Homo sapiens: one gene and its partners. The protein of the gene in region 1 purifies or fractionates together with the protein of each later gene. This does not show direct contact. Each region holds a gene or a part of one and is shown on either strand. Other genes may lie near its edges. The genes, in order: SLC22A15, GHDC and ERGIC2.

Region 1 (7,106 bases):
AAATTTCCTACTTCTCCATCTTATCTGGCTTTCATCTCCCCGTTAATAGTATAATAGTAGCACCACTTCACTGGATGATCTGAGCTGTTCTGCTTTTTTTTTTTTTTTTTTTTTTTTTAAAATATATAGTCTGAACTAGTTACTGTTTAGTGCTAGGTGGAAACATCTCCTCACTGGGAGGTGAGTTCAGGTCGTGAAAAATAGAAAGCAGAGAGAAAAGAACTCATGAGATTTAAATATTTACTTATTCCACTAAGCCTGGAATGTAAGGCTTCCCACAGTCAGCCTCCATTTATCTTTCCTAATTTCCCATCCTATGTTCAGGCACACTGCACTACTTGTTCCTTATGCTTTTCTGCTCCATGCTGCTACTCAGTGCTGTGTCTGCTTTTTCAACAATCTTCTGCCCAGATCTTCTTATTTGATAAGTACACCACTGTCCTGATTTTCTCAAATGCCGTCCACCCCATCTTTTCCTGATCATAGCTTCAGCTACAAGTCATTGTCTTTCTTTTTTGAATTCCACGGCATTCACCCATACCCTTTGAGTGGCCCTTATGTTTCTGCCTCATAATGGAGCCATGTTCTCTCTTTCTAAACTGAGAGCTCTCCAACAGTAGCAGGCTCTTTGCTCCATGATAACATTTTCCCCAGTACCAAAGCCAGGGGTTTCCACACAGTAGATCCTTGGACATTGCACAAATGTTGGCACAAAAACATTTGGAATCACCTTTAGAATTTGTAATCAGCAACATAAGAAGCCACATTATATACCTTATTTGTTTACCAGAAACATTTTTACCTAGCTTAAAAATTCCTTATTTTCACAATACTTCAATTTCAGTAGATTTACTTTTTTTCTGAAAACCAGGGTCCCCTTAATTTACAAAGATTTGCCACCTTTAATGATATTCATGGAGCGGTTTTGAGTTGGGCAACATTGTTAAATTAGCATTTTAGCTTTCAAAGGAGCCCACGGCACAGATGACCCTGCTGCTATGTAGAGGACGGCATGTTCAAAGGCCTGCTCTTTCTTTTAAAAACGTGTCTTACTGTTTTGTACGTATAATCTGCGTGTGTTGGAACTCTGTTTCCAAATCTGTCCACTGGCAACTAGGTGACCCTCTTTAGAAGCAAGCTTATTGGCCTCTCAAAATGCAAAGAAATATAAGACCGTAAGTTTTCATGATCAAGATAAACCCTTTGCCAGGTAGAAATAGTTTTATTAACTCAGAGCCGAATTTCTAAAGCCTTCGTGTCTCTCAAATACCAGCTTTAAAATGATTTATAAAGTTTTAAAAGTAATTTTTATTGCTTATAAACAATTTTGAAAACACAGAGAGGCTAAGGGTAGGAGAAAATGACATATAACCCAAAGATAATGACTGTGAATATTTTGGCGTATTTTCTGTTGTTTCTTTTTTATTCCTCCCAATCCTCCCCAAAATAATTTTTATTATCATATATTTTCTCTCAATATTTATCACAGTAGTCCTCTTTCATTTAGACATAATCAAGTGGTTTTACGTAATAGCTCCTATATGCCCCTATGGATAGGGCCAATAAATCCTACTCATAACCTGCAGACCTAACTTCAACAGAACAATGTTTTACTTGATTATTTATTTGTTTGTCCGTAATAATAATCAAATGGCAATGAAGAAGTAAATGGAAGGATTTTTCAGGATGTTATAGATGGCCTTTGTTCCTGCTTTTGCTGACAGTCAAATATTGTGCGTGAATATTCCTTTCCTCAGTAGCAAAGCTCCTGGGAAAACTCCTGCCTTTTGGTTTCCAGCATCTTTCCTTTCAGCACCATTACATTACTCTGTACAAAATTGAAATGCTCAATAAATGGCTGTTGACAGACTGGCTGTCCATTAAGTTTCCAAATCCTGTAGTGTTTGTTCCTAATTCACTATCCTTATTAGAAGGCACAGTGAATTCTATAAAGCACCGTAAATAGCCAGTTTTATTCATCTAAGTTTCATTTTAGGCAGATAATGTCAAATTAGATTTAAAAAAAAAACAACCTTGATTTGTGTCTTGTAAACAAGGCTTCCATATTCCTGCCTTGGTTTTGTCTTTGGAAAGTCCTCTGAAAGTGTAGGTAAAATGGGGAAGAGGCAAAAAGATACATAATATTTAAGTTTTGAAACTCTTTGAATATATCAATGGCAATATAATTATCCAACACTTTGTAGTTACATTAGAAAATAACTGTTGTTTTGTAACTAGAAGTTGGTCAGGAAATAACTTCTATTCTTTAAGGTCTTGGGGGATCAGGAAATATCCTCAGGACATATTAAAGCCAGTGTGTCAGGTGATTTGAGTATTTTGAAGCAGTAAACACTCAAAAGTAGCTTTGGTAAACTTGGTTTCATCTTTATGTGTAGTCTTAAGATAATCTCTACCTCCTACATGTCACTATGTTAAAAATATTTCAGTTTAAATTTTTTTTTCCTGATGAGATAATAAAGATTTCTATCTTGTCAGGCTTTTTTAGAACTTAAAAAAACCCATTGTCTCTACAGTATTTTCAAACAACACTTGGCTAGGATTTAGAGCCATATCTTTGACCTGTGCTTTATGAAGAATTTTCATTATTCAGTCCTATAGACTGAATAATATGTTAATATTTAACATATTAAAATTCACATATTAAAATTTATTTAAAAATAAATGCATACTGTTTGCTTTTTAAACTGCAATTGTAAAGCATGTTCTTGGTTTTCAGTGATAAAGTAGACTACCATTTAATGTTAGCATGCTGTTGAAAGTAGCCCTTTCATATGTTATTGGGAGAGTCAAACTTTAAGTCTAACATGGAATCCCATTTGTGGTGCAGGAATCCACGTACTGAGTAGGTGATTTGTCTCCTTCCTGTGCACGTGTACCTATATGAATATACAGGCTTTAATGACATCTCTTTCAGATTCATTCCTGAATCACCTCGTTGGTTATACTCCCAGGGTCGACTGAGTGAGGCTGAAGAGGCGCTGTACCTCATTGCCAAGAGGAACCGCAAACTCAAGTGCACGTTCTCACTAACACACCCAGCCAACAGGAGCTGCAGGGAGACTGGAAGTTTCCTGGATCTCTTTCGTTACCGGGTCCTGTTAGGACACACTTTGATCCTGATGTTCATCTGGTAATTATACTAAGGCGTGTTCTGTTGCTCTTTAACTAAGGTTGCTCGAGCTTCTCTTGATATCCTGCTCCTTCTTCAGGGTACAGGGAATTTTACCTCTTTTGTTAGCTTGAGGTTGTTTTCTCAACAGCAAGTCTCCTGATCCTTAGCGCCTGGTTTTCTGCTTGCGCAGCCCCGTCTTTCTCAAGTAGCAGATGATAGTGCCTGATGGGCAGGTCCACTGAGCTTGAGTAAGTAGACATCAGAAGCACATCTTTGCTTTTGAGGTATTTATCATAAATATTTAAGCCTTCCTGCCCCTTCCCCTGCAAAAAAGGAAAGAAAGCAAATAAGCATGGTAGAAATAGATGAGTTTTTAAATAGGACTTTAAAAATACTTACCTTTGGCACTGGCATCAAGCAGTTTGCTAGCACATTCTGATTGCGGTGCTCCATGCTGCATTTTCTGTGGCACTCCCACTCACTAACTCACTGAGGTGGGCTAAATATGATCCCTTGTACAGATGGGACCCCAGGAGTTTGAAGTGATGAACCCTAAGCCACATATGTAAATCAGTGATTGAACTGATGAGCACTTTCTGAACCTGATTTTTCTGGTTGTTTAGCTTATTCCCACCTACCTTTCAAAATGCTCTCAGCGTGAGTGTAAGTTGCATTCAGCGGTTCAAGATGGTTTCATTTAAAGAATGAAGTTGTAGAAAGAGGAGAAATGGATGGGTGCATACAATTTGTGGATTGCACATGTGTTTTGATATTGTACATACTGCTAATGTGCCATAAGTGTTATCTGGGCAAAATCATACCTACTAGCCTAAAGGACAGTTGTGCTGTGGCTTATATGTATTTGCCATGAAGCCTGCATGGAGCCCTACATTTCATGCAGGGATAAAGGAAAGTGATTTTATATGAAAGTGATCTTATGTATAAAGCTACAAAGAATAGTAGCTTTAGAATAAGAAGCTGCAAAGATATTTTTCTATATCATATACTCTTTTTCTACCCAAGCAGTGGCTGCCACCTGTATGGTTGGGGGCCATGTTAACCAACTGCTGCTTTCCCCCACAGAACCATCACAGCACTAGGAATATCACAGATGCATAATAAATGTTGAGGCTTGGAGGCATGGAGATTAAGAAAACCGTTGAAAGCCAAACCTGACAACACAACATAGGAGCTGCTAATTTGAGGTTCTACCCATTCAAAAGCAAATACTTACAAAGTATGTTCAGGTACTTAGGGCTCCATAAAACTTTACATTTGTGTATCACATAGACAGTCAGTCAACCTCTGCCTTGGAGGAACCACCTACTTGTTGCAGATTATTCACTATTTTTATTTTTTCCCCCATGTATATTAACTTCTGGGTTCTGGCCTTCAATGGATAAACAAACAAACAAACCCTAGACTTAGGGCCAGGGAAACTGTCCCTGTTCATTTTATTTCTTACACAGCCAAATAAACTTCTTCCCTGAGGCTGAGAATGTTAAAACATGTGATAATAGAGACAGTCACTCCACATATTGCCGTTCTTTTTGAAGATGCTATAAAATTCTAAAATCTTCTCTGTGGATCTGTCATTCAAGAAAGCCTTAACTGGGGATTCAAATTATACCTCTGTGTTAAACATCTGTTCCTTTAGTTATTTTCCACAATAGTGCCTTTTTAAATAATTATTTGATGCTCTAAATATACTGTTAAATATTATGCAAGCATTTTAGATTTTGTTTGGGGGACATAAAGAGGATTGAAATGATTTTAATAGCTGTAATTATGGATCCCAATGACCAACTCTATGACGAAGGCAACTTGCAGAGCAGAGGCCCAGCCCTGGGGACAATGGGCCTTCCATGCTTCATGCTCTCCCCGTTCTCTCTCACCACCAGCTGGGAACTAAATTCCACTATTGTCCTGAACTGGCTTGTCTATTCTTGCCCTGACTTGATACTGTCACAGCTTGATTTAAATAGGGGTGTCTCTGTGTGTGTGTGTGTGTGTGTGTGTGTGTGTATGTGTGTGTGTGTGGCTGGAATTTCTATTGTAAATGCAGAACAGACACAGAAAACCAACTGGGAAACAGCATTATGTAAATGCTGTTTCTGCAGGTGTAAGGGATTTTAAAAACGTTTTAGAAAACTGCATGGATTTAAATTTATTTTGCCTTCTGCTTTCATGCAAGATACCTGGGAGACAGTGAGAACAGACAATGCAGTGTCACCTTGCATCCTTACATGTGATGTCCTGGCTACAATCCTGCCCGTTGTCCTTGGTATATGAATAACACTTCATCTCAGTAAGAAATCATGCATAATACTTCTGGCTCATTTGCTAGGGAGGGCTGGACTACTAACCACTCCAGCTTGAGGGTCCCTTCTCTTTACATCTCTCTCTTCTTACATTACTACAGCCTGGGGTACTTGGCCCACTTCTGAGATTAAGCAGAGATGGAAATAAAACTTTCCCTTTCCTGACTGATCTCATTATAGCCACAGCTCATTAGAGTTTCTCTAAGGAAAACTAAAGGGAAGCAAATGAGAATGTCCCCTTAATAAACACTGATCAAACTGTGTTGCAAAAGCATAAAACCTGATGAACTTAACAAAGCTTCGGTGTTTTACTGCTTGTATAGAAATTTGTGGTTTACCAAACATATTCATATTTTTGTAAAGCCCAGTTTCAGGGTTTTATTTTTGTTCATTCTATTCTATTTTGTTTTGTTTTATTTTAATAATGCAGTTTCCTAGGCATAGAAGTTCCTACTACCACCATTACTGTGTTTGAGGAAGCCCTGATTTGGATCTTTAGGTTGGCACTTGGCTTCCTCAGCTCTTTAGTTCTTGGATTGTAGGAGAGAGGCTTGGTGCCTAGCACTATGCCTGCCACCCAAGAGGAGCTCCCTGTTTGTTTCAGGAACGGTGTACATAAATAAATTAATGGCTTTTTAAGTGACCCTTCCTCGGTTGTTCCTCCTAGAAGATCCTGCCTTTGCTGTGACCTTTAATTTTTCTTTCCTGTTCTGGGAGTCTGTATCATGTGCACCTGCTGAATGCAGGATGGGGTTAAAACCTGCAATGGGAAGTGTCTGGATCATTGGGGATTGGAGTGCCAGTCATTTTGGGCCTGCAGGTGACCCACTGAAGATCCAGTCACTTCTCAGCTCATGTTCTTAAGGCCATCTTCTGTTGGCTTTCTCCATGGGAGTTCTTTTCTAGAATCATTTCAATAATATTACAACTATCTATAACAAGTGTTCCATAAATTGTTGCCTTAAATAAAGAATAGGGTCATTGTGTTCTATTAATTGCAGAAATGCTTGCTGAAAGCACATGCAATGTCTTTCCTCTTTAAGGGGCTGGCCATCCATTTGATTTATATAACATATAGACATAGCTCAAATTATTTCCAAACCCCCATAATTTTTTTGTTTTTTCCTAGTGTTGAAATTTAGATTAAAATAGAAAAATTAGTAGGAGAGACAAGCTTATTGCTTACAGCAGATCAAGCAATTATATTGAACCAATATTTGAATCTCCTCTGGCAAATTCTTATGTACTTTTCTGTTGTCCTTCTTGTCTTTTACCTCCTGGTCCTTTGACTCCCAATTGCAGGTTTGTGTGCAGCTTGGTGTATTATGGCCTAACTCTGAGTGCGGGTGATCTAGGTGGAAGTATTTATGCCAACCTGGCCCTGTCTGGCCTCATAGAGATTCCATCTTACCCTCTCTGTATCTACTTGATTAACCAAAAATGGTGAGTAAGTGTGGATGAATATGAAGTGCACCGTAGAGAATGCACACATACACATATGCCCTCTGATACACATGCATATCTATATGGTGTTGTCTTTGTATGCAGTATCAGCTGATTGCTCTGTGGTGATTAGAGTTTCTTTCCATCTAAAAACAGTTAGAATTCATTTCTTAGTGCAGGATTTCTTGAGTTTCATGTTTACGAGTTTT
Region 2 (7,023 bases), on another chromosome or scaffold:
TGGCCAGGCTGGTCTGGACCTCCTGACCTCAGGTGATCCACCTGCCTTGGCCTCCCAAAATGCTGGGATTACAGGCGTGAACCACCATGCCCAGCCTGGAGCTGGCTCTTAAGGAACAAATAGGGCCGGGCACGGTGGCTCATGCCTGTAATCCCAGCATTTTGGGACGCCAAGGCAGGTGGATCACCTGAGGTCGGGAGTTCGAGACCAGTCTGGCCAACATGATGAAACCCCGTCTCTACTAAAAATACACAAAAATTAGCTGGGCGTGGTGGCACGCGCCTGTAATCCCAGCTACTTGGGAGGCTGAGGCAGGAGAATCGCTTGAACCCGGCAGGCAGAGATTGCAGTGAGCCGAGATCATGCCATTGCATTCCAGCCTGGACAACAGAGCAAGACTCTGTCTCAAATTAAAAAAAAACAAAAAACCCAGCCATTCCACTTGTAGGTATCTACATAAGAACCATGAGAACATATATGTACAGAAACACTTGTGACAAATGTTCATAACAGCATTATGCATAATAGCCAAAGGGCAGAAACAACCCAAATGTCCATCAACTGATGAATAAACAAAATGTATTATGGTATATCTGTACAATGGAATATACGGCAATAAAAAGGAATGAAGTGCTGACACACAGGACATGATGTTGTCACGGATGAACCTTGACAATATCATGCTAGATGAAAGAAGCCAGGCCGGGCACGGTGGCTCATGACTGGGACTCCAGCACTTTGGGAGGCTGAGGCGAGGGATCACTTGAGTGCAGCAGTTCAAGACCAGCTTGGACAACACGGTGAAACCCCATCTCTACAAAAAAATACAAAAATTAGCTGGATGTGGTGGTGCACCCCTGTAGTCCCACCTACTCAGGAGGCTGAGGTGGGAGGATCACTTGAGCTGTGATCATGCTACTGCACTCCAGCCTGGGTGACAGAGCGAGGAAAAAGAAAAGAAGCCAAGTACAAAAGACCGCATATTATATGATGCCATTTATAGGAAATGTCTAGGATAGGCAAATCTATGGAGACAGAAAGTAAATTTGAGGTTGCCTAGAGGCTGGGAAGGAGTTTGGAGGTAATAGTGAAAGGATACAGGGTTTGGGGGTTTTTTTGTTTTGTTTTTTTTTTTGTTTGTTTTTCTTGAGACAGAGTCTCGCTCTGTCACCCAGACTGGAGTGCAGTGGCGCCATCTCGGCTCACTACAACCACTGCCTCCCAGTTTCAAGCGATTCTCCCACCTCAGCCTCCCAAGTAGCTGGGATTATAGGCGCCGGCCACCAGACCCTGCTAATTTTTGTATTTTTAGTAGAGACAGTGTTTTGCCATGTTGGCCAGGCTGGTCTTGAACTCCTGACTTCAGGTGATCCACCTGCCTTGGCCTCCCAAAGTGCTGGGATTATAGGTGTGAGCCACCACGCCCAGCCTGAGTTTGGGGTTTTTTATTTTATTTTATTTTATTTTATTTTATTTTATTTTATTTTATTTTATTTAACGAATTGGGCAGTCTCCTGAGGCACAGTAGGCTCAGAGAGACTCTGCAGGGTTTGTTTTTGAGGTAAGGAAAATGTTATTATCTGTGGTGTTGGTTGCACATATCTCTGGATATACTAGATCTTGAATTGTACACTAAATGGGTGATTTGTATGGTGTGTGAATTATATCTAATAAAGCTGTTACTGGGCCAGGTCTAGTGGCTTACACCTGTAATTCCAGCACTTTGGAAGGCCAAGGTAGGAGGATCGCTGAGACCGGGAGTTCCAGACCAGTCTGGGCAACATAGTAAGACCCCCTGTCTCTACAAAAAAAAAAAAAAAATGTTTTTAATTAGCTGGGTGTGGTGGCACATGCCTGTAGTCCTAGCCACTCAGAGGCTGGGGTAGGAGGATTGCTTGATCCCCGGAGTTCAAGGTTGCAATGAGCTGTGACCAGGCCACTGAACTCCAGCCTGGACAACAGAGCAAGACCCTGTCTTTAAATAAATAATAAAAGCAAATGCAAGATCTCAGCGAGAAAAAACGTGAAAGTGAGGTGAGTTAGCCAGAGTGAGAACAGACCTGTTGAAAGAAGCTCAGCTGTGAAGGGAAGAGAGGTGCTCAGCAAGTAGTAGCTCTCTTCTCAAAGGTATCCAGAGGCAAGTAAGGGGAGAAAGGGAGTGGTTTTAGTGTTTTGAGAGCCTAGGTCAAGAACACACCAGCCTGGGCAACATAGGGAGCTCTCTCGTCTCTACAAAAAATAAAATTAGTTGAGCGTAGTGGTGCGTACCTGTAGTTCCAGTCCCTTGGGAGGCTGAGACAGGAGGATCTCTTGAGCCCAGGAGGTTGAGGTTGCAGTGAGCTATGATCGCACCACTGCACTCCAGCCTGGGCAATAGATCAAGACCCTGTCTCAAAAACAAAAAACAAAAAAAGAGAAGTTTGTAATTTTCCTTGGGATAAAGGCAACAGGCTAACACAGATGGTCACCCAGTAACCAGGTAAAGTTAAGATAAACTATATGTGACTGGCTGGGTGCAGTGGCTCAGGCCTGTAATCCCAGCACTTTGGGAGGCCGAGGCAGGTGGATCACTTGAGGTCAGGAGTTTGAGACCAGCCTGGCCAACATGGTGACATGGTGAAACCCCGTCTCTACTAAAAATACAAAAAATTAGCTGGGTGTGGTGATGCGTGCCTGTAATCCCAGCTACTCGGGAGGCTGAGGCAGGAGAATTGCTTGAATCTGGGAGGCGGAGGTTGCAGTGAGCTAAGATCGTGCCATTGCACTCCAGCCTGGGCAACAAGAATAGAACTCTGCCAAAAAAACAAAAAAAAAGAAGTTTGTAATTTTCCTTGGGATAAAGCCAGCAAGCTAACACAGATGTTCACCTAATAACCATGTAAAGTTAAGATAAACTATGTGACTGGCTGGGTGTGGTGGCTCACACCTGTAATCCCAGCACTTTGGGAGGCCAAGGAGGGTAGATCACTTGAGGTCAAGAGTTTGAGACCAGCCTGGCCAACATGGTGAAACCCCATCTCTACTGAAAATACAAAAATTAGCTGGGCGTGGTGGCACACACCTGTAATCCCAGCTGCTTGGGAGGCTGGGGCAGCAGAATCGCTTGAACCTGGGAAGTGGAGGTTGCAGTGAGCTGAGATTGTGCCACTGCACTCCAGCCTGGGCAACAGAGCAAGACTGTGTCTCAAAAAAAAAAAAAAAAAAAAAAGATAAACTATATGTGACAAGTCCTCTTACTTGAGGACTCGTTATTGTTTATCTTGAAAACGTGTATGTAATGGGTTGTATGCGCTTGGCTATACAAAAAAGTAAGATTTCCTCCCTTCTTTGCAAGCTCTTAGCAGATCACCTGTCATGTACATCACATTGTGGTTGAATGCTTATTCAATAATAAAATTGTTTTCTTTCTCAACTACCTTGAGGGAGAGGATGGGGTTTTTTTTGTTGTTGTTTTTGTTTTGTTTGTTTTTGAGACGGAGTTTCGCTCATTGCCCAGGCTGGAGTACAATGGCGCAATCTCAGCTCACTGCAACCTCCGCCTCCCAAGTTCAAGTGATTCTTCTGCCTCAGCCTCCCAAGTAGCTGGGATTACAGGCATGTGCCACCACATCTGGCTAATTTTGTATTTTTAGTAGAGATGGGGTTTCACCATGTTGGTCAGGCTGGTGTCAAACTCCTGACCTCAGATGATCCACCCGCCTCAGCCTCCCAAAGTGTTGGGAATACAGGCGTGAGCCACCGCGCCCAGCTGAGTTGGGGTTTTAAGAGTTCTTAAGCTTGCCCCTCTCCCAGCTCAAGTGGCTTAATGGCGTTCTTTCCCACACACACCTTTCTGTTCCTTCACCTGCGCAAGTTTGAGGACCATGCTAGTCTGGTCCTAACTGCCCCAACTGCCAGCCTGGGCTAGCACCCGACATGAAGTCCTGTAGGCGACCTGCCCCTTTAAGAGCACCCCCCTCCTTCAGCTCCTCCCTCAGGCCTGGTGGCCGGATTTCCCAGTTGGGGCCCAGCCTTTTAAAGCCATCGCTCCTTCTTTCTGGCCGGATGTGTGCTGAGACCCAGAGTCACCCAGGGGTCTCCGTCACGTGCCAGGAGTAGGCAGAAGTGGGCTGTGACAGGTGCATGTGGGCATGGACCCCACAGCCTGGGGCTCAGGAGGGACAAGGAGCTGGGACAGGGTGGATCCCGAGAGAAAGCAAAGCCACTCGGGAGTGGGCAAGAGATATCGTTACGCAGCTGCTGTGTGCCCGACCGACCCTGTCCGAAACCCTTCCTGTACCTTCCCTTCCTCTTCCTTCTTTTCTCCCTTTTTTTTCTTTTCTTTTTTTTTTTGACAGGGTCTCACTCTGTTGCCCAAGCTGGGGTGCAGTGGCACGATCTTGGCTCACTGTAGCCTTGACATCCTGGGCTCAAGGGATCCTCCCATCTCAGCCTCCCAAGTAGCTGCGACTATGGGTGTGACACCACGCTGGGCTAGTTTTTCAATTTTTTGTAGAGATGGAGTCTCCCTATGTTGCTCAGGCCGGTTGCAAACTCCTGGGCTCAAGTGATTCTCCTGCCTCAGCCTCCCAAAGTGCTGGGATTACAGATGATAGCCACCTCACCCGGCCCACCCCTACCTTCTGAAAGAGGCATTCTTATTCTTATTCCCATTTTGCAGATCAGGAAACAGAGCTCAGTGCAGCCCACTAAATTGCTCAGGGCCCTACAGCTAACAAGCGGCAGAGGCAGGATCTGCACTCAGGTCAGTGGGACTCCAAAGCTTTGATAGTCTCTCCTTTGCATCACCTGCCCCACAGGGTCCTGCCTTCTTCCCAATTTCATTTTTCCTCGGTTTTCCTGTATGCAGTAGAGCGTGGGAGGAGAAATGGATAATTGCTGCATGCCCCCATATCTCGGTTCCTTCCTCTTCCCAGGAGCTGCTTGGAGATGCTGCTGTGGCCACTGCTGCTGCTGCTGCTGCTGCTGCCAACATTGGCCCTGCTCAGGCAGCAGCGGTCCCAGGATGCCAGGCTGTCCTGGCTTGCTGGCCTCCAGCACCGAGTGGCATGGGGGGCCCTGGTCTGGGCAGCCACCTGGCAGCGGCGGAGGCTGGAGCAGAGCACGCTCCATGTGCACCAGAGCCAGCAGCAGGCCCTGAGGTGGTGTCTACAGGGAGCCCAGCGCCCCCACTGTTCCCTCAGAAGGAGCACAGGTGTGTTTCCCAGGGTCTGGGGAGGTGACCCAAAGAGAAAGAAACCCCACAGGACCGTCAGATTCCAGAGCCTGATGGCCCCCTTACCTCCTCCACTGCCAACGGAGTGGCCTGACCCAGAGACCCAGGACTGGCTTTCTTGTCCAAGATGAATTTCCCATGCTGGGTCCTTACATCCTCTCTACCCCAGGCCTATTCTCGGTTCCTCCCTCAAGGGTCTCACCAGTCTTGCCTGAAACTCTTGGGAAACTGGCTTCCTGAGGCGTTTCTGTTGTCATTGGGGCTATAGACATAAGCACCTTCCGGAATCATCTCCCTCTGACCAAGGCCAGCCAGACCCAGCAGGAAGACAGTGGAGAGCAGCCACTGCCCCCGACCTCAAACCAGGACCTTGGGGAGGCCTCTCTGCAGGTAATCTAGGATGGCCAGAGCCCAGTCCTGGCCACAGCCCAGTCCCACCAGAGACCTCTGACTTGCAGCCAAACCCTCCAGTCATGGTGGGCAAAGAACCCCCAAATGGGGGCTCTGGGTCTGGCTCTGACACCAGACCAACATTCTCTCTTTCCTCCTCCAGGCCACCTTGCTGGGTCTGGCAGCCCTAAACAAGGCCTACCCAGAAGTGCTGGCTCAGGGACGCACTGCCCGTGTGACGCTTACATCCCCTTGGCCCCGACCCCTGCCTTGGCCTGGGAATACCCTGGGCCAGGTGGGCACCCCTGGAACCAAGGACCCTAGGGCCCTGCTGCTGGACGCACTGAGGTCCCCAGGGCTGAGGGCACTGGAGGCTGGGACGGCTGTCGAACTTCTGGATGTTTTCTTGGGCCTGGAGACTGATGGTGAAGAGCTAGCTGGGGCGATAGCTGCCGGGAACCCTGGAGCGCCTCTCCGTGAACGGGCAGCTGAGCTCCGGGAGGCCCTAGAGCAGGGGCCACGGGGACTGGCCCTTCGGCTCTGGCCAAAGCTGCAGGTGGTGGTGACTCTGGATGCAGGAGGCCAGGCCGAGGCTGTGGCTGCCCTCGGGGCCTTGTGGTGCCAAGGACTAGCCTTCTTCTCTCCTGCTTATGCTGCCTCGGGAGGTCAGTGGGACTCAAGGGCAGTGAGGTGGGGGCAACGGTCAGTGGTCACATGACAAGCAGCCATGCATTGGGCCCTACATAATCATCTCATTTAATCCTCCCCAACAAGCTGCATGCTAGGGCCAGCAGCCTCCTTTTACAAGTGAAGAAATTCAGGCTCTCTAGGTTAAGAGTCTTGTAGCTGGGTGCAGTGGCTCACGCCTGTAATCCCAGCACTTTGGGAGGCCAAGGTGGATGGATCGTTGAGGTCAGGAGTTCCAGACCAGCCTGGCCAACATGGCGAAACCCCATCTCTACTAAAAATACAAAAACTAGCGGAGTATGGTGGTGCACGCCTATAATCCCAGCTACCTGGGAGGCTGAGGCGGGAGGATTGCTTAAACCTTGGAGGCAGAAATTATAGTGAGCTGAGATCGCGCCATTGCACTCCAGCCTGGGTGACAGAGCAAGACCCTGTCTCAAAAAAAAAAAAAAAAAAAAAAGGCCGGGGCAGTGGCTCACGGGTGTAATCCCAGCACTTTGGGAGAGGCTGAGGTGGGTGGATCACCTGAAGTTAGGAGTTTAAGACCAGCCTGGCCAATGTGGTGAAACCCTGTCTCTACTAAAAATACAAAAATTAGCCAGGTGTGGTGGCAGGCGCCTGTAATCTCAGCTACTCAGGAGGCTCAGGCAGGAGAATCACTTGAACCCAGGAATCACTGAATCACTGAGCCGAGATCGCACCACTGCACTCCAGCCTAGGTGACAGAGCGA
Region 3 (8,027 bases), on another chromosome or scaffold:
ATCCATTGGGTGAAGCCAGCTGGGCTCCTGAGTCTGGTGGAGATGTGGAGAACCTTTATGTCTTGCTCAGGGATTGTAAATACACCAGTCAGCACCCTGTGTCTAGCTCAGGGTCTGTGAATGCACCAATCGACACTCTGTATCTAGCTACTCTGGTGGGCCTTGGAGAACCTTCATGTCTAGCTCAGGGATTGTAAATACACCAATCGGCACTCTGTATCTAGCTCAAGGTTTGTAAACACACCAATCAGCACCGTGTCTAGCTCAGAGTTTGCGAATGCACCAATCGACACTCTGCATCTAGCTACTCTGGTGGGGCCTTGGAGAACCTTTGTGTGGACACTCTGTATCTAGCTAATCTGGTGGGGATGTGGAGAACCTTTGTGTCTAGCTCAGGGATTGTAGGTGCACCAATCAGTGCCCTGTCAAAACAGACCACTTGGCTCTACTAATCAGCAGGATGTAGGTGGGGACTTATAAGAGAATAAAAGCAGGCTGCCTGAGCCAGCAGTGGCAACCTGCTCGGGTCCCCTTCCACACTGTGGAAGCTTTGTTCTTTCGCTCTTTGCAATAAATCTTGCTACTGCTCACTCTTTGGGTCCACACTGCCTTTAAGAGCTGTAACACTCACCGCAAAGGTCTGCAGCTTCACTCCCGAGCCAGCGAGACCATGAACCCACCAGAAGGAAGAAACTCCGAACACATCTGAACATCAGAAGGAACAAACTCCGGACATGCCGCCTTTAAGAACTGTAACAGTCACGGCGAGGGTCCGCGGCTTCATTCTTGACGTCAGTGAGACCAAGAACCCACCAATTCCAGACACATTTTGGCGACCCAGATGGGACCTTCGCCAATCACCAAGCAGTAAGACCATCGCCTATTGCTGAGCGGTGAGACAATCACCTATTGCCAAGCAGTGAGTACCATCGGACCCCTTTAGCTTGCTATTCTGTCCTATCTTTCCTTAGAATTTGGGGGCTAAATACCGGGCACCTGTTGGCCAGTTAAAAGCGACTAGCGTGGCCACCGGACTAAAGACACGGGTGTCAGGTTTTCTGGGAAAGGGCTCTATAACAACCCCCGACTCTTCGGAGTTGGGACCATTGTTTTCCCTAGAACCAGCTTCTGCTTTTCCAGTACTTCTGGGCTGAGCCGAGGGTCGACAGAGAGGAAAGCCATGCAGCTCTGGGGTCCCGACAACAAGTTGGTTGACCCTGCGGCCATGAGCAGAACTCTCAAAAGCATGTCGCCCAAGCGAGACTCGCCCATCTATCCTATCTATCCTGACCCTTGCCCCCTGGGTCCTAATGCCTGTCAGACAAACTTCCTCTTGCCTCTCTTCTCTGAGGTTAGTCCCGCTTCTAAAAATTGCTACCGTCTCTGGTGCTTTTCTAGTTTCTCCTATAAGAATGATTTCTAGTATAAACTCCAGGACTCTGTTACCTTCTTTAGGCACCCGGGCTCACCAATCAGAAAGACATAATTTTTGCCCAAAGCCCCATCGTAGTGGGGACTACCTGGAATTTTAGGATCCCTCCTCAGACTAACAGGCCTAACAAAAGCTATTCCTGAAGCTAGGATATGGGGAGCCTCAGAAATTATATCCTTCCTATTCATATAAGTGAGGACAAAAGGTGTCACTCTTCCAAACCTGGAGATCCCTTCCCTCCCTCAGGGTATGGCCCTCCACTTCATTTTTGGGGCATAACATCTTTATAGGACAGGGGTAAAGTCCCAGTACTAACAGGAGAATGCTTAGGACTCTAACAGCTTTTCGAGAATGCGTCGGTAAGGGCCACTAAATCGATTTTTCTCAGTTGGTCCCCCTTGTGGCCTAGGAGGACAGGCAAGGGTGCAGGTTTTCGAGAATGCGTCGGTAAGGACCGCTAAATCTGACTTTCCTTGGTCCTCCATGTGGTCTGGGAGGAAAACTAGTGTTTCTGCTGCTGCGTTGGTGAGCGCAACTATTCCGATCAGCAGGGTCCAGGGACTGTTGCGGGTTCTTGGGCAGGGGTTGTTTCTGCTGCTGTGTTGGTGAGCGCAACTATTCTGATCAGCAGGGTCCAGGGACCGTTGTAGGTTCTTGGGCAGGGGGAGAAACAAAATAAACCAAAACGCGGCAGTTTTGTCTTTCAGATGGGAAACACTCAGGCATCAACAGGCTCACCCTTGAAATGCATCCTAAGCCATTGGGACCAATTTGACCCACAAACCCTGAAAAAGAGGCGGCTCATTTTTTTCTGCACTACGGCTTGGCCCCAATATTCTCTCTCTGATGGGGAAAAATGGCCACCTGAGGGAAGTACAAATTACAATACTATCCTGCAGCTTGATCTTTTCTGTAAGAGGGAAGGCAAATGGAGTGAAATACCTCATGTCCAAGCTTTATTTTCATTGAGGGAGAATACACAACTATGCAAAGCTTACAATTTATATCCCACAGGAGGATCTCTCAGCTTATCCCCATATCCTAGCCTCCCTATAGCTCCCCTTCCTATTAATGATAATCCTCCTCTAATCTCCCCTGGCCAGAAGGAAACAAGCAAGGAAATCTCCAAAGGACCACAAAAAACCCCGGGCTATTGGTTATGTCCCCTTCAAGCTATAGCGGGAGGGGTATTTGGCCCAACCCGGGTACATGTCCCCTTCTCCCTCTCTGATTTAAAGCAGATCAAGGCAGACCTGGGGAAGTTTTCAGATGATCCTGATAGGTACACAGATGTCCTACAGGGTCTAGGCAAACCTTTGACCTCACTTGGAGAGATGTCATGCTACTGTTAGATCAAACCCTGGCGTTTAATGAAAAGAATGCGGCTTTAGCTGCAGCCCAAGAGTTTGGAGATACCTGGTATCTTAGTCAAGTAAATGACAGAATGACAGCCGAAGAAAGGGACAAATTCCCGACTGGTCAGCAAGCCATCCCCAGTATGGATCCCCACTGGGACCTTGACTCAGATCATGGGGACTGAAGTCATAAACATCTGTTGACCTGTGTTCTAGAAGGACTAAGGAGAATTAGAAAAAAGCCCATGAATTATTCAATCGAACTAGAGAAAGAAAAAAATGGCACAAAAACACCTTTTGATCATCTTTACTAAATACAGGTTGTTATGGAACAATTATTAATCTCAGTCTAAAACCTATCTTATGCGGGTAATACATAATGGACTTTTTAAAGCAAATTGTTTTTCAGACATAACGCCACTGATAACACAAGATTAAGTATCTATCTCTTTTTAAAGATGATCCTGATAGGTACATAGATGTCCTACAGGGTCTAGGGCAAACCTTTGACCTCGCTTGCAGAGATGTCGTGCTACTGTTAGATCAAACCCTGGCCTTTAATGAAAAGAATGCGGCTTTAGCTGCAGCCCGAGAGTTTCAATCTTCAGGGGAAATTAAGTTCCCTCTTCACTGGGTAGATTAGAAAATGGTGAGTTGTTTTCTAAATAAGAAGGATCAAATTAGTCAGTTTTGCTACACTGGGAAATCCAACTCTCATGGGATAGTTGTTACCCTGAAAGTAGGTTATCCAGGAGATGAGGGATCAGATGTAACTAAGTGAACAACAGCCAGCCTCCATCCAAGCAAGAGCCCATATTCACAAAGAAGGAAGAGTTGCTGATGCCTTTACGGCAAAGATTAAAAAAAGGCATTTTAGATGTATATTAATTTACTTAATCCTCGTAACAACTCTGAGATATTATCATGCCCATTTTACAGATGAGCAAATGGAGACACAAAGAGATGAAATAATGTGGTCAAGGTTACATGCTAGTAAGTTGCTGATCTGGAATTCTAACCCAGGAAGTCCTGTCTCCAGTGTCTATGATTTCACCCACTACACTATACTTCTTAAGCATGTCAAGAAAGTGAGAACTTTAAATTGATTTAATTAGACTAACTCTGAAAGTCTGAAAATAAAATTGATTCATTGGAAACTTTTCATCAGTCCTTATTTTGGGGGATATTCAATTTAGTGAAATTTAGTATTTCAGTAAAGGTTAATTCACTACATAAAACAATGTGATTTTTTTCCTTTGAGGCACAGTTTAGTATTGTGATCAAGATTTCCCTGACTCTCCCAGCGGTCTGAATTTGGGTAAATCACTTCACTACCCCTTGACTCAAATTCCGTATTTATAAAACAGGTAAATACTGGTATTATCTTCTAAGAGTGTTGTGAGGATACGCAGATTTTTTAAAAAAGCAGTTAAAGCCTTTAAACAGTAATTATAAGCAGTTGTCATAATTATGCCGTTGTTAGACTTCTAGGTCAATGAATCAGAAAATTTAAATCTCAATGTTTGATTATAAAATCTGGTAACAGATGGGTGAAAAGGAACCTGGAATGGGTTTACTCTCCAGGAGTTCACATTTAACTTTTCTTTCCGAAGTTCCGTCTATTAACTCCTGTTCTATGAAGTGGTAGAAAAAGATGAGGTATTAATTTTCTTTCTTAACAAATATTTGAAGGCATAGTTGGTGTTGGCGAAGGGAGATGAGGAAGACATATGTGCTTTCTTATGATATTAAAACCTGGAAGACAATAAAAACGCTGATCAAATAATAAAAAGCGTTACCTATGGCGGAAAAGGAAGCTCAAATGTTCTTGTCAGGGGAAAACGACACAAAAACTGAAAGAGGGAAACAAAACAATTGCACAGGTGATATGCATTAGGGTTGTTAGGGATAATTTCTGCGCCCAAGGCTCTTATTAGTAATGAAATACGGTGTGAGGAGCTGAGATTCGTTCTGCAGTCTCAGTGTTAGTCGGAAAGTAACCCCTCCCTTCCCATAGAAACAGAACCGGACTGGCGGCGCGATTACACCTAAAACAAGTTGCAACCTCATTTCCCTGTAGGCACGCCTCTTTTATCTTAACCACGCCTCTTCATTCCCTAAGCACGTCGTAAGCAAAGGGAATATCGCGAGATCTGTACATTGTCTCTTTTCTGACGTTTTCAGCTGTGATAGTCGCTTTTGTTCTCGCGATATTTCCGGGTACGCGGGAGCCCCGGCGACCCGGGCTTCTGTGAAACATGGCGGTAGGCTGGGACCATAACACAAGGTAAAATACTGAAACACCGCTGGGTGCTGTTCCCTCGGTTGTTCCAGGGCTGTTTAGGGCGTAAATGCAATTGAGGGAACTGGGAGCCTGTCATGGGCTTGGCTTCCTGTCTTCATTGATCTCTAGAGAGCCGGTCGGACGGAGAAGCCGCTCCACCTCCCACGGGGGCGTTACTGGCAGGACCCTAGGCAACGATGCTACTGGGAGCTTCCCTTTGCCAGGTCCGGGTGCTTGTGTGCTATCCTGCAACTCGAAGGAGTTCAGGTGCTTCCTCGATCGCACCTGATTCTGACCCTTTGCTTGTCACAGTGCCCGGTTCCCAGGTGGTTTCTCCAGTCCGCAGGCGAGTAGGATCCCAATCGGTCGAGTCCCAGTCCTCCCGGATGTCAGACTCCCTACCCCCATTCAGACAAATGCCACATTCGTGGCAGCACGTTGCCCTCTGTCTCTTTAAGAGTCTTGGCCTTGCCCGGAAGGAGTTTCGCACAGTGCTTCGGAAAATGAGAAGGGGGCGGGGGAGGGCGAGATGCTGAGAGACAGGTTCGACTGTCACTACTTTTCCTCGGCGCAGGAAACCTTCCGAAGGCAACGTGTCAACTCGTGGTGGAGAATAGCCTTGTTTATCTGTAGTATATAGAGTTGACAGGTCATTGTTTGAGAAAACACGTTTAAATAACTTTTATATTTTAGTGCCCCCGAGACTTAAAGACAAAGTGGCATAATAGCTGTTAAAATGTTGCCAGACTGGTTTTCAGAAGCAATGAAAGTTACAGTTAAAAACAGGATTTATTCATTTGAAGTTGTAATTCAGTATTTCAGTTAATTGCCTAGCCTGATACATTGGACTCCAGTATACAGCAATTATAAAGAATGAGCCTGGCTTGTTCACTGAAAAAAGACATGGTTATTTACCTAATTTGTTTGTTGATATCTTTAAGTTGTTGTAATTATGCCAGTTCTAGTGGAAAACATGAGGAAAAAAATTCTGATTTTTTGGGAGGGTGGGGGTTGGCGGTGCAGGGATGGATAGAGAGAGGAGGATTTTTTTTTTTTTTTTAAATGATGGTGAACTTTAGTATACAGTTGCGTGTTATAATGGCTTCCTGGTACAAATCATAAAAATATATCAAGTTTGAAAGATCTCTCAAAGGAAATCAGGCCTAGTCTGGAACAACGAGAGTTAGGGAAACAACAACAACCACCCACACATTTTCTTTCTTTGGGGATTGATGATTTAAGTGAAAGAAATGGCTATTTTTTTTTTCTTTACCAGAAGTTACTTTTAGGCAGTCAGTGCCTGCTAAAAATCCTATTTAATAGTTTCCCAATATTTATTGTAATTCTGCCTCTTAATGTCATAGTGGTCAAATTATTTAACCTCTCTGTGCCTTAGTTCCTTCATCGGCCAAATGAAATAATGATACTTAACTCATAGGAAGGTTGTGAGGATTGAATGTGTTGAAACATACAAAGCATTTAGAACAATACCTGGCACACAGTAAACACTCAATGCATGTTAGCTCTTGTTATTTTTTATTTTCATTTTCTAACATCTGTAGTTACAAATGTTGCCTTGTTACTTAGTCAAAATGTAGACTGAAGAAGATATTGTTTAAAATAATATCTTTCTGAACTCCAGATTGATTAAACACTCTGATTGGTGTGGTTAATGTGTCCTTAAACTCCCATTATCCAGTTGCTTGTTTTCTTAAATTATTATCCTCTTTTAATGACTAAAGCATAAGTTCTTCCTTTCTATTGCTCTATATAGTCACGTTGTAGTGTGGCTCAGATCTACCCTCTGAGTGCCTTATTAACCCCCATACTCTTTGCTTTTGAGAACATTCATTCTATTGTAAATATATTTCATGTGTCCCTGACCTTTTCCTTAATACTTTTTAACTTTAATTTTCTATACTTTTATTGAGAGCTACTATAGTCTAGTTGTTCTTTGAGGAGGATTATACTTGTCCTTGCTTCACATTGCTACTAGGCACTTTTAAGGTTATTCTGTTATCACTCTATAGTCTCTCTTAACTTTTAGTCTTATCAGTTTATGCCATCCTAACTTCAGGAGATTGTCAACTAACCTCACATACTCTCCCACTTTCCTCAAAGACTTTAACAACTAAATCTCAAATATCCTACAAATCTTTGCTTTTTTTCAGAGAATTAGAAATAGATATTACATGCCTCATTTTTATCTTAACACTGTGAGGTAGCCATTATGTCCTGCTGCCCATCTTTTAAAATAAAATTATGGAGAGAGGATTCTAAGAAGTTGAGTATCTTTCCACACTTGTCACACAACTAGTAAGTGCCTAGGTAATCAGGGTTTTCTGATTATAAACTCACATTTATATTGTCTTCCTTGGCTTCCAAGTAAACCTTTCTGTCACTTAGAATGTCATTAGGTTTATTTGAATTATGTTGGGGTAAACAAACATAATATTTAACTCTGTTGTAAAAGGTCCAAATTTTAAGGTAAAAATAAGTACAATTGAGGGGGTTGGGGGGTTGCTATCTAGTATTTGCAAAGTAAAGCTAAGCTATCTTATAAAATGTTTTTTATTGTAAAGTATTCTAATGCAATATAATCAAGTAATTTAAAATTACAGATAGGTTGTAGTTTTACCTTTTATTTCTGATATTCAGCGATGGCCTGAATTATATTGCCTGTATTAGTTGCCTGGGGCTGCTGTAACAACTTACTATAAGCTGGGAGGCTTAAAACAAAAGAAATTTATTCTCTCACAGTTCTGGAGGCTAGAAGTCTGAAATCAAGGTGTCAGCAAGACTTGAAGACTCTAGGAAAGAATCCTTCTTTGACTCTTCCTGGCTTCTGGGCAATCCTTGCTATGCCTGGGTTTGTAGACACATCACTGTAGTCTCTGCCTTTGTTTTCACATGGCATTTTCCCTTGTGTTTCTCTGTGTCTTCACATGGCCTTCTT

Evidence for each region.
Region 2: the proteins of SLC22A15 (region 1) and GHDC purify together in Homo sapiens (affinity purification with mass spectrometry; 2 studies listed by BioGRID and IntAct, with this or other methods). This does not show direct contact.
Region 3: the proteins of SLC22A15 (region 1) and ERGIC2 purify together in Homo sapiens (affinity purification with mass spectrometry; 2 studies listed by BioGRID and IntAct, with this or other methods). This does not show direct contact.

What each region holds. Positions count from the first base shown.
Region 1 is NC_000001.11:116,028,431-116,035,536, forward strand, and holds part of SLC22A15 (solute carrier family 22 member 15), read left to right. Parts: intron 1-2,935; coding exon 2,936-3,151; intron 3,152-3,281; coding exon of another isoform or gene 3,282-3,300; exon of another isoform or gene 3,301-4,216; coding exon of another isoform or gene 4,217-4,217; exon of another isoform or gene 4,218-5,327; coding exon of another isoform or gene 5,328-5,328; exon of another isoform or gene 5,329-5,424; intron 5,425-6,756; coding exon 6,757-6,897; intron 6,898-7,106. UniProt on the Homo sapiens protein: Organic zwitterion/cation transporter with apparent specificity for amino acids and their derivatives. Has low affinity for its substrates and may regulate their flux across the plasma membrane at high substrate concentrations.
Region 2 is NC_000017.11:42,191,488-42,198,510, reverse strand, and holds the start of GHDC (GH3 domain-containing protein isoform 1 precursor), read left to right. Parts: upstream 1-4,016; 5' UTR 4,017-4,118; intron 4,119-4,660; 5' UTR 4,661-4,744; intron 4,745-4,916; 5' UTR 4,917-4,929; coding exon 4,930-5,194; intron 5,195-5,483; coding exon 5,484-5,605; intron 5,606-5,768; coding exon 5,769-6,270; intron 6,271-7,023.
Region 3 is NC_000012.12:29,378,162-29,386,188, reverse strand, and holds the start of ERGIC2 (endoplasmic reticulum-Golgi intermediate compartment protein 2), read left to right. Parts: upstream 1-5,016; 5' UTR 5,017-5,074; exon of another isoform or gene 5,075-5,720; intron 5,721-8,027. UniProt on the Homo sapiens protein: Possible role in transport between endoplasmic reticulum and Golgi.